Linked DNA regions of Homo sapiens: region 2 is linked to region 1. Evidence: fine-mapped expression QTL. A gene starts in region 1. The other region holds a variant in brackets. All regions are shown on one strand. Distances are from middle to middle.

Region 1 (5,379 bases):
GCCTGATCAACATGGAGAAACCCCCCTCTACTAAAAATACAAAATTAGCCGGGCGTGGTAGCACATGTCTGTAATCCCAGCTACTTGGGAGGCTGAGGCAGGAAAATCGCTTGAACTGGGAGGCGGAGGTTTCCGCGAGCCAAGATCATGCCATTGCACTCCAGCGTGGCAATAAGAGTGAAACTCCATCTCAAAAAAAAAAAAAATTTTGTCTGGAATGACTATGTATATATTCATGTAATTAAAGTAATAAAAGTTTAGAGATAGTTCTTCTCATACATAATCTTATATCTGGTATCTTCTTTTTGTCTCCAGTACACTATGCTAGGTCAGGCCAGGATTATTGCAGTAATCTCCTAACTTCTCTTTCTGCTGTTGATTTGGCACACTTCCATAAGGCGGTCAGAATAAGCTTTGAAAATTCAAATCTTTTTTTTGAGACGGAGTTTCACACTTGTTGCCCTGGCTGGAGTGCAATGGCACGATCCCAGCTCACTGGAACCTCTACCTCCCTGGTTCAAGCGATTCTCCTACCTCAGCCTCCCGGGTAGCTGGGATTACAGGCGCCCGCTGCCACGCCCAGCTTTTTTTTTTTTTTTTTTTTTTTTTTTTTTTTTTTTGAGATGGAGTCCTGCTCTGTCACCCAGGCTGGAGTGCAGTGTCGCGATCTCGGCTCAGTGCAAGCTCTGCCTCCTGGGTTCACACCATTCTCCTGCCTCAGCCTCCTGAGTAGCTGGGATTACAGGCGCCTGCCACCACGCCCGGATAATTCTTTGTATTTTTAGTAGAGACGGGGTTTCACCATATTAGCCAGGATGGTCTTGATCTCCCCACCTCGTGATCCGCCCACCTCGGCCTCCCAAAGTGCTGGGATTACAGGCGTGAGCCACCACACCCGGCCACACCCAGCTAATTTTTTGTACTTTTAGTAGAGACGGGTTTTCAAACTGGTCTTGAACTCCTGACCTCAGGTGATCCAACCATCTCAGCCTCCCAAAGTGCTGGGATTACAGGGGTGAGCCAATGTGCCCGGCCAAAAATACAAATCTTACTAAGTCCCTCTCTGGTTAAATATCTTTGAGGATTAAGTTCAAACTTTTAGCAGTTTGTGATAAGGTCCTGGTCTCATATCTTTCGTAGCATTTCTTTCCATTCTCCCACCCTTTGCTTGAAGCTTTTTTTCTAATATAAGCAGTAGCTTCTAGCCTTTGCAAAAGCTATTTTCTCTGCTTTCAACTTTGTTAATTCCTATTCATCCTCTAAAAATCAGTTTTAATCCTGCTTCCTGGGAGACTTTACAGCCCCACTGTAATTTAGATATTCCTCTCTTCTGCTATTGCAATCTGCGCACCCCTCAGTCACTCTTATCACACTGCACTGAGGTTGTTCATCTTTTCCTAATTTTTTGGAATTTCCTAAGTTTTGGAGTTGGCTTTCCCACTGCGCACTCAGATGTCTTAAGCACATTTAATTTTTTCTTCTGTGTGTTGATAATTCATATTCTTTGCCCATTTTTCTGTTGAGTTGTGCTTTCCTTACTGATTTGTAGTAATTCTTATGTGTCAAATACTTCTCAGTGTTTGTTTTTAGTTTTTGTTGTACTTCAATTTTTAATGTTTGCATAGTAAAATATATAAAATGTTTTCTTTTTTTTTTTTTTGACTTGAACTCCCGACCTCAAGGTGATCCGCCCACCTTGGTCTCCCAAAGTGCTGAAATTACAGGTGTAAGCCATGGCACCTGGCCCATAAATATAATTTCCTAAGATTGAAAATTTATTCGGCTGGGCACCATCTCAAAAAAAAAAATTATTCAACAAATTCATTGAATGGCCACTTAGGTATTGGCACTCTGTCAGCTACCGGGGATACAATGGTGATCAAAAAGACAAAGCCCAGCTGGGAGCCATAGCATGGAGCCTGTAGTCCCAGCTACTCAGAGGGCTGATGCTTGAGGATCCCTTGAGTCCAGAAGTTCAGATCCAGCCTGGACAATATAGTGAGATTCCCATCACTTAAAAAAACAAAAAACAAAAAGACAAAGCCCCTGCCTTAAAGCTTATATTCTAAAGGTGGAGGCAGACAATAAACAAGTAAACAAATAGTTCACAGAATTAATTGCTTTTAATGACTATGAAGGAAATAAAATGGGAGCCAGAAGTAGGCAAAGGATGTGTACATAAAACAGTTCAATTGAATGGGTTTCCCATAATTTACTTAACCATTTTTATTTAGTGTTGGATTTTTATATTGCTTTTAGTTTTTCACTGTTATACTAATACAGAGGAATTATTTATGTTTATTTTCATGGAATAATTTCCTACAAATGTAATTACTGAATAGAAACAATCAGGATTTTTTTTTTTTTTTTTTGGGACGGAGTCTTGCTTTGTGGTCTATGCTGGAGTGCAGCGGTGCAATTTCTCACCGCAACCTCAGCCTCCGGGGTTCAAGCGATTCTCCTGACTCACACTCTCGAGTAGCTGGGATTACAAGCCATCATGTCCAGCTCATTTTTGTATTTTTAGCAGAGACGGGGTCTCATCTCACCATTTTGGCCAGTCTGGCCTCACACTCCTGGTCTCAAATGATCCGCCCGCCTTGGCCTCCCAAAGTGTTGGGATTACAGGCTTGAGCCACCGCGACCGGCCTCTAAGTTGCTTTCAAGAGGTAACCACGGTGAGTAAGCTGAATGTGCTCTGAGGGGTAGAAGCAGAAAAAGTTACCTGTGGAAAAGGCATGTTTCCGCTTAGCTTAGGGATAAGCTAAATGTAGAGCTGACTTGGGTTTAGTAGTAAGGGGCAGCAGCTAATGCAAAACCGTTAGCTTTGGGAACAGGACAACCTGGATTCTAAGCCCATTTTTGCCATCCTGTGATCTTCACAGGTTGTACGTAGCCCTCTCTGAGCCTTAGTTTCCTGAAATTCAGGTAGGTTTTGCTCAACCTTTGTATTTCCCACCATCTTTTAGATCAAGCACTCTCTGGCGCCTCCAAATTGAAGACAGCAGCTGCGGAATTGATGTAATGGGCTGAATCAGCCTCAGCCGCGAAATGCCGACTAATCACAGGCACCTCCGGCGGCCTGGACAAAAGGTTTGAAGTCCCTGGGACCGCACTTCCGGGTAATTAAGGCTACGCTTTAGACGCCAGGGCCAGCGAGTCGCAGCCGGGTGACTCGAGTGCCGCGACTGCGCATGCTCTCGCCCCAGCGCCCGGCGGCCACCTCTTTCCCGCGGGCGGGCCGGGGCGGGGCACTGAAGGGGGCGGTCCAGGACCCTGACTTGTCTCGCGGTTACTGGGCCGGCGCGAGCACGCGAGGCTCGGGGGCGGCACGGGGCGGGGTTTAGCCTGTGGTGGGCGCTGCGGGTGTTTGCAGGAGGTTGCAGTACTCGCTGGGCTGAGGTCGTCTCGGGTGAGGAGGTCGCGCCGGAAGTGGCTCTAGCCGTGGCGCTTCGGCGTAGTAAGGAGCCTGCAACAGAGTTTTGTTGTTTAGGGGGCGCGGCACCGCACCGCTCCCTTCACCTTGCAGCAGCCATGGCGAAAGGCAGAGTCGCCGAACGATCGCAGTTGGGCGCTCACCACACGACCCCCGTGGGGGACGGGGCAGCGGGGACGCGGGGTCTCGCGGCGCCTGGCAGCAGAGACCACCAGAAGGGTGAGTGGGCCCGGGGAGCAGAGCTGGGGGTGGCCCGAGGCTTCTGTGTGTCGGGTGGGGAAAAGGACCCCCGCTATTCTCGGAGAGTCGCGGGGAAAGAGGGGGGCCTGCTGGCGCCGCGGCGGGAGCAGAGACCGTGGGGGAGTTGGGCTTGGGCGCTCGCGCAGCACAAGGCCGGACGCCGAGTAGGTGCGTTGTAAATGCTGTTTGAGTAGAATTCATTTAAAAGAAGGGATGACACTGGCTTGTTGACGCTCAGGTAGATTGTAAGGTTGATGATAACGACGCTAGGCAGAGCTGGAAGGAGCTGTACTGTGGCATTCGCTGCGTTGTTTTTACAGATGAAGAAACTGAGGCCCAGTGTGGGTATATGACTTATAAAGTCATAAAGCCAGATCAGTGAAGTAGTAGTTAGGAGCGAGGACTTAATACTTCCAGGTGGCAGTACACCTGGGCTTGAGTCCCTGCCCTACTGTTTACTTGGAACCTTGGACTTGGTAACTTTCAAAAAAAGCTCAGTGTCTGAACTGTGAAATGGGGATAATAATAATATCTACTTAATAGGTGGTGCGTGGGTTAAACGAAATAATTCACGTAAAAGATTTAGAGCAATGCTTGGATATGAAGTGGGGGCTAAATAAATATTAGCAATTACTTAGTTACAGCTAAGGTCACTCATTCTAAAGTTTATTTCCCCACTACATCATCCTGACATTTCTCACGGCTTTATTTTTGGTTTTTGTTTTCTCTTTATTCCTACTGCCTCTATAATTGCAGAATCTCACGGCTTTAAATATTGTTTTAAGGAAAAAACTGTACGTAGAAACTAAATACTTTGATTCCGTGTTGGCCTGGAATCGTTCTTTAAATGATTTTAAAGCTCATAAACTTAAAGTGATCCTAACAAGTTTGTCTGTAGCTCACATAGGTGTGTTCCACCACCAGTGATGGCTAGGAGAACTTCTAAGAGTATGTAGTAGAAAATGTTAATGTATTTTCAAATAATTTAAAATGTCTCCAACAGTCTAATTTGGCTCTGTCAGCCTTATGTTTTTGGGTATTTTTCCAGCTTATATACACTGGATCCAGGTGACTTCATATAATTTCAAAAACTGAGAAATGAATCGTTGTTAATGTATAAATCAGCTCTGAATAAAAGAAAGATTGTTTTGAAGACTCTACTACTGAGGGTGACAATATTCCAAGGTCTGGGTTTCCTGAAAAAGTGTTCCAGATAGGGCATCCCTAAAAATTGACATCTCATTTGAGGTAGCAGCCAGTTGTATTCATGATTTTTACCTAAAGCTATTCAAAAAATAAAACCTTGAAACTTCCAAAGTGCTCTTACTTTTTAATCTTATTTTATCATTACAACAAAACATTCAACACAATTATTCTTTTTTTTTTTTTTTTTTTTGAGACGGAGTCTCGGTCTGTCACCCAGGCTGGAGTGCAGTGGCGCAATCTTGGCTCACTGCAAGCTCCGCCTCCTGGGTTCACGCCATTCTCCTGCCTCAGCCTCCCGAGTAGCTGGGACTACAGGCGCCCACCACCACGCCGGGCTAATTTTTGTATTTTTAGTAGAGATGGGGTTTCACCTTGTTAGCCAGGATGGTCTCGATCTCCTGACCTGTTGATCCGCCCGCCTCGGCCTCCCAAAGTGCTGGGATTACAGGCGTGAGCCACCACGCCTGGCCTACAATTATTCTTATGATGCTGTCCCA
Region 2 (5,379 bases), 21 kb after region 1:
CGCCACTGCACTCCAACCTGGGCGACAGAGCAGGACTCTATCTAAAAAAAACAACAACTAGCAGAGCATAGTGGCACGTGCCTGCAGTCCCAGCTACTCAGTAGTCTGAGGTGGGAGGATCACTTGAACCTAGGAGATGGAGGTAATATTGAGCTATGATCGTGCCATTGCACTCCATCCAGCCTGGGTGACAGAGCATGGGAGCCTGCCTATAGAACAAACAAAAAAAAAGAAATGATCATAATATGCATGAAACACAAAGGTGATTATTCGAGGCTTTCCTAAGCAAGAAATCATTCAGTTCCAAACAAAGTGCCAAATATAGAGTAAAAGTACTGGAAAACTTGCAGTTTTTTGTGGACTTTGATCTGTGGTATTCAAGAAAATGTTTGAACTGTGAATTTGTTACATTTTTACTTAATTTTCATTGTAAATTATTATTTAGTTTATCATCAGGATTACCCAAAATGATGTTAAATGTTTTTAATTTACTAACATCAGTGGTTCTTTTTTTCTTTCTTTCTTTTTTTTTTTTTTTTTTTTGAGACGGAGTCTCTGTTGCCCAGGCTGGAGGCTCACTGCAGCCTCTGCCTCCCGGGTTCAAGTGATTGTCCTGCCCCAGCCTCCTGAGTAGCTGGGATTACAGGCATGCACCACCATGCCCAGCTAATTTTTGTATTTTTAGTAGAGACGGGGTTTCAACACGTTTGCCAGGCTGGTCTCGAACTCCTCATGTCAGGCGATCCACCCGCCTCGGCTTCCCAAAGTGCTGGGGTTACAGGCGTGAGCCACCATGTGCCTGGCCAGTGGTTCATTTCTTATATTCAAGTTAAAATTTGTTTCGATGTTGGAACAAATGCCTTTAACCCTTGGTTTGCGTCATCCAGAGCCTTCATATATAAATTACCTGTCTCTGATTCTGCTGAGACATTAAAAAGAAAAAATTGCCTGTCTCATGAAATTATATTAAAGCATTAAAAAATAATTTATAGCCGGGCATGGTGGCTTACTCCTGTAATCCCAGCACGTTGGGAGGCCAAGGCGGGTGGATCACCTAAGGTCAGGAATTTGAGACCAGCCTGGCCAACATGGTGAAACCCCGTCTCTACTAAAAATACAAAAATTAGTCAGGCATGGTGGGACGTGCCTGTAATCCCAGCTACTTGGGAGACTGAGGCAGGAAACTCACCTGAATCCAGGAGGTGGAGGTTGCACTGAGCCGAGATCGCGCCAATGCACTCCAGCCTGGGCAACAGAGTGAGACTGTGTCAAAAAAAATAATAAAAATAAAATGAAATTAATAATAATTTATAGGCCAGGTGCGGTTGCTCACTCCTGTAATCCCAGCACTTTGGGAGGCCGAGGCAGGAGGATCATTTGAGCACAGGAGTTTGAGACCAGCCTGGCAACATGGTGAAACTCCCTCTCTACTAAAAATACAAAAGTTAGCTGGGCATGGTGGTGCACGCCTGTGATCCCAGCTTCTCAGAAGGCTGAGGCAGGAGAATCGTTTGTACCTGGGAGGCAGAGATTGCCGTGAGCTGAGATTCCACCACTGCACTGCAGCCTGGGCAACAGAGCAAGACTCTATGTCTCAAAACAAAAGAAAAATTATAAACTTTTAAACTTAAACATTGCTAATTTAGACTTAATAGATCAAGGCATGAAATCATTTTGGATAAAACTTCATGTTGTGAACTTGACTTTGATATTATCTTGGCAAAATTCTGTTCTAAAATTTTTCACTTTATTTCTTCAGAGAAGAAAGAGTGAATATGAAGGTTCCCAGAGATATGGATGATGCCAAGGCTCTAGGAAAAGTTTTATCCAAATACAAGGACACCTTTTATGTTCAAGTACTTGTAGCTTATTTTGCTACATATATTTTGTATCCTTTTAACTGAAAAAATGTTTTCTAATTTTGTTCAAGAAAAAGTGTAAAAGGTCTGCTCTTCATTTATACATAACTATTTTCCTTTTAAAATTTGTTATTGCAGTGTGACAATATTAAATAATTGAAAAATTAAAATGGAAAAAAATTATCACTTTAATCCTATTTGCTGAACTAATTGTTTTTATGTCTGAATATTTATTAGAAGTTCTTTTGTATTCTGCTTTTTTCACTTACCAAACATTTTCCTTTATTGCATATTATTAAGATGTTTATTTTATGGGTTTGATTTATAATTGTATTCATTAACTGATGATACTAGTTTATATAATTATTTTGAATTAGTAGTCACCATAGTATTTTTATAATTGTTCTGTTAGGTTTGGAGGTATAATTTGTTGTTAATTTTTATAGATATGTATTATGAATCTCCTTTGTTCATGTTTTTTTCTTGCATTGTTTCTTTTGTAAAAATTCTTAAGATACTTATTCAAAGGAATGAATGTTTTTTACAATTTTTGATATATATTTTATAGAAATATATTACATTTTAACTAGTCAGGAAAATAGCTTTATTTCAAACTGCTTAGCTGTGGGTGCTTAATTTTGCATATTGTGGAGTTTAATTTTCATTTCTGATTTGTTAATATCTTTTATTCTTATCCAAACTGTTTTCCAGATCTTCTCAGTTAATGAAAGACGTAATTTACTTCTTGATGTTGTAAAAGTAATCATCCTTTTTAAACCAACTTTTTTTTTTTTTTTTTGAGATGGAGTTTTGCTCTTGTTACACAGGCTGGAGGCACAATCTCTGGTCACTGCAACCTCCACCTCCTAGGTTCAAGCGATTCTCCAGTCTCAGCCTCCCAAGTAGCTGGGATTGCAGGCGCCTGCCGCCATACTTGGTTAATTTTTGTATTTTCAGTAGAGACGGAGTTTCACCATGTTGGCCAGGGTCGTCTGGAACCCCTGACCTCAGGTGATCTGCCCATCTCAGCCTCCCAAAGTGCTGGGATTACAGGTGAGAGCCACTGTGCCCGGCTTTTTTTTTTTTTTTTTTTTTTTTTTTT[TTTTTG/G]AGACAGGTTCTCCCCCTGTCACCCAGGCTGGAGTGCAGTGGCATGATCATGGCTCACTGCAGCCTCAGCCTCCTGGGCTCAAGTGATCCTCCCACCTCAGCCTCCCGAGTAGCTGGAACCACAGGCACACCCAGTTAAATTTGGGATTTATTTGTAGATGCCAGGTTTTGCTATGTTGTCTGGGCTGGTGTTGAACTCCTGAGCTCCTCAGCCTCCCAAAGTGCTGGGATTTCAGTCATGAGCCGCCACGCCTGACAACACTGGGATATTATATAGCTATTTAAAAAGAATCAGAAGTAGCCAGGTATGGTGGCTCATGCCTGCAACACCAGCACTTTGGGAGCCCGAGGCGGGTGAATCACGTGAGGTCAGGGGTTCAGACCAGCCTGGCCAACATAGTGAAACGCCATCTTTACTAAAAATACAAAAATTAGCTGGGCGTGGTGATTGCATGCCTGTAATCCCAACTACTCAGGAGGCTGAGGCAGGAGGATCACCTGAACCCAGGAGGTGGAGGTTGCAGTGAGCTGAGATCGTGCCACTGCACTCCAGCCTTGGTGACAGCAAGATTCCATCCCCAAAAAATAAAAATAACAAAAATAAAAAGAATCAGAAGTATCCATATGTTGTTGAGGTATTAACTCACAATATACAGATAAGTGAAAGAACAAAGGGCAAAATAGTACACAAATATGCTGTGTTTTATCTAAGAAGGGGATAATATGAGTACACTCATATACATAAGTATCTTGTTATATTTTTCTTAAAAAACTAATTGGCCGGGTGTAGTGGCTCATTCCTGTAATCCCAGCACTTTGGGAGGCTTCAGCAGGAGGATTGCGTGAGGCCAGTGGTTCGAGACTGGCTTGGGCAATGTAGCTAGACCCAGTTTCTACGAGAAATACAAAAATTAGCTGGATGTCTTGGTACATGCCTGTAGTCCTAGCTACTTGGGAGGCTGAGGTGGGAAGATCACCTGAGCCCAGGGAAGTTGAGGCTACAGCGAAGCATTTAGCCTCTGCACTCCAGCCTAGGTGACAGTGAGACTGTATCTCAAATAAATAAACCAGTAAAAATGTTTACCTGTAGGGAGAGAGATAAAATGGTAGGACTGAAACTTTTCTTAGCGTAGGTTTGACTTGAGAACCAAGTAAATGTTTTACATAATTACAAAATCAAAATGAAAAAAGAGAATAGCAGGAATCTTAAGAATCAAAAGCAACCTCACACTCATTAGGATGGCTATCATGAAAATAACAAGTGTTGGCAAGGATGTGGAGAAATTGGAACTCTTGAGCACTGTTGGTGGGAATGCAAAATGATGCAGCTACTATGGAAAATAGTATGGCAGTTCCTCAAAAATTAAGAATAGTATTATCAGGGCCGGGTGTGGTGGCTCACACCTATAATCCCAGCACTTTGGGAGACCGAGGCAGGCTGATCACCTGAGTTTGGGAGTTCAAGACCAGCCTGACCAACATGAAGAAATCCCGTCTCTTCATGTATTTTTTTGTAGCGATGGGATTTCATCATGTTGCCCAGGCTGGTCTCGAACTGGAACTCTTGGGCTCAAGTGATCCTCCCACCTCAGCCTCCCAAGGTGCTGGGATTACAGGTGTGAGTCACCAGGCCTAGCCAAAAATCTTAAAACTGTTTTTAGTCATCATATTGTTAGTAGTAATAATGTTGTAAAATATTTAAATATGTGGAAACGTTTTAGATTATTAATACTAATGCATAGTATATATTTTATACATTTACTTTATGTTTCATAGTATATAAAGCACAAATAGGCAACTATGTTGGTGTTATCAAGAACCAAGATTTTTCAGTGTAAGAGAAGAGAAATCTAAACAAAGTTAAGCTCAAGTCACATTCCCATTTAAAAGGAAGCATAGTTTTGACTACTAGTATAAGATAAAGGATAGAACATAAACTACCCTAAGTATCCAATAGGCAAAATTCAATAAATGGTAAATTCTACAAATGATCTGGTTTCTTCAGTAAATTGAAAGAAAGAAAAAATAAAGACCCTATGCTTAAGTGATCCTTTGAGCAAATACTTTGTGTGGACTTCTAGATTCTGATCAGACTAGTCTTTAGGACAATAAGGAATTATAGTTAATTTCTTGAAGTCTGACAATGGTATCATATTTATGTTAAAAAGAAAAGGAGGCCAGGCACGGTGGCTAACACCTATAATTCCAGTACTTTGGGAGGCCGAGGCAGGTGGATCACGAGGTCTGGAGTTCAAGACCAACCTGACCAAGATGGTGAAACCCTGTCTCTACTAAAAATACAAAAATTAGCCAGTTATGGTGGCAGGCGTCTGTGATTCCAACTACTTGGGAGGCTGAGGCAGAGAATTGCTTGAACCTGGGATGCGGAGAATGCAGTGAGCTGAGATCACGC

Which allele goes with the higher level. Positions count from the first base shown, and alleles are read on the strand shown. Sizes are in standard deviations (SD) of each study's normalised expression.
With allele G in place of TTTTTG in region 2, the expression in naive CD4 T cells of the gene that starts at base 3,383 in region 1 is lower (large effect, 1.5 SD a copy in Schmiedel 2018).

What was found. PIP is the estimated chance that this variant, and not a neighbour inherited with it, causes the effect.
Region 2: its variant is the best candidate, but not a certain one, in a credible set for the expression of TMEM41B in naive CD4 T cells (Schmiedel 2018, PIP 0.75).

What each region holds. Positions count from the first base shown.
Region 1 is chr11:9,312,597-9,317,975 of GRCh38, reverse strand. TMEM41B (transmembrane protein 41B) reads left to right here and starts at 3,383. Exons shown (of 7, transcript NM_015012.4): 1 at 3,383-3,655. The coding sequence starts at 3,535. RefSeq lists a silencer at 3,044-3,393 and enhancers at 3,159-3,674, 3,675-4,192.
Region 2 is chr11:9,291,768-9,297,146 of GRCh38, reverse strand. TMEM41B (transmembrane protein 41B) reads left to right here. Exons shown (of 7, transcript NM_015012.4): 3 at 1,760-1,888. Among named protein-coding and RNA genes, the nearest start is that of TRL-CAA5-1, 19 kb to the right of the region's middle. The variant TTTTTG/G (reference allele first, on the strand shown) is at 2,962.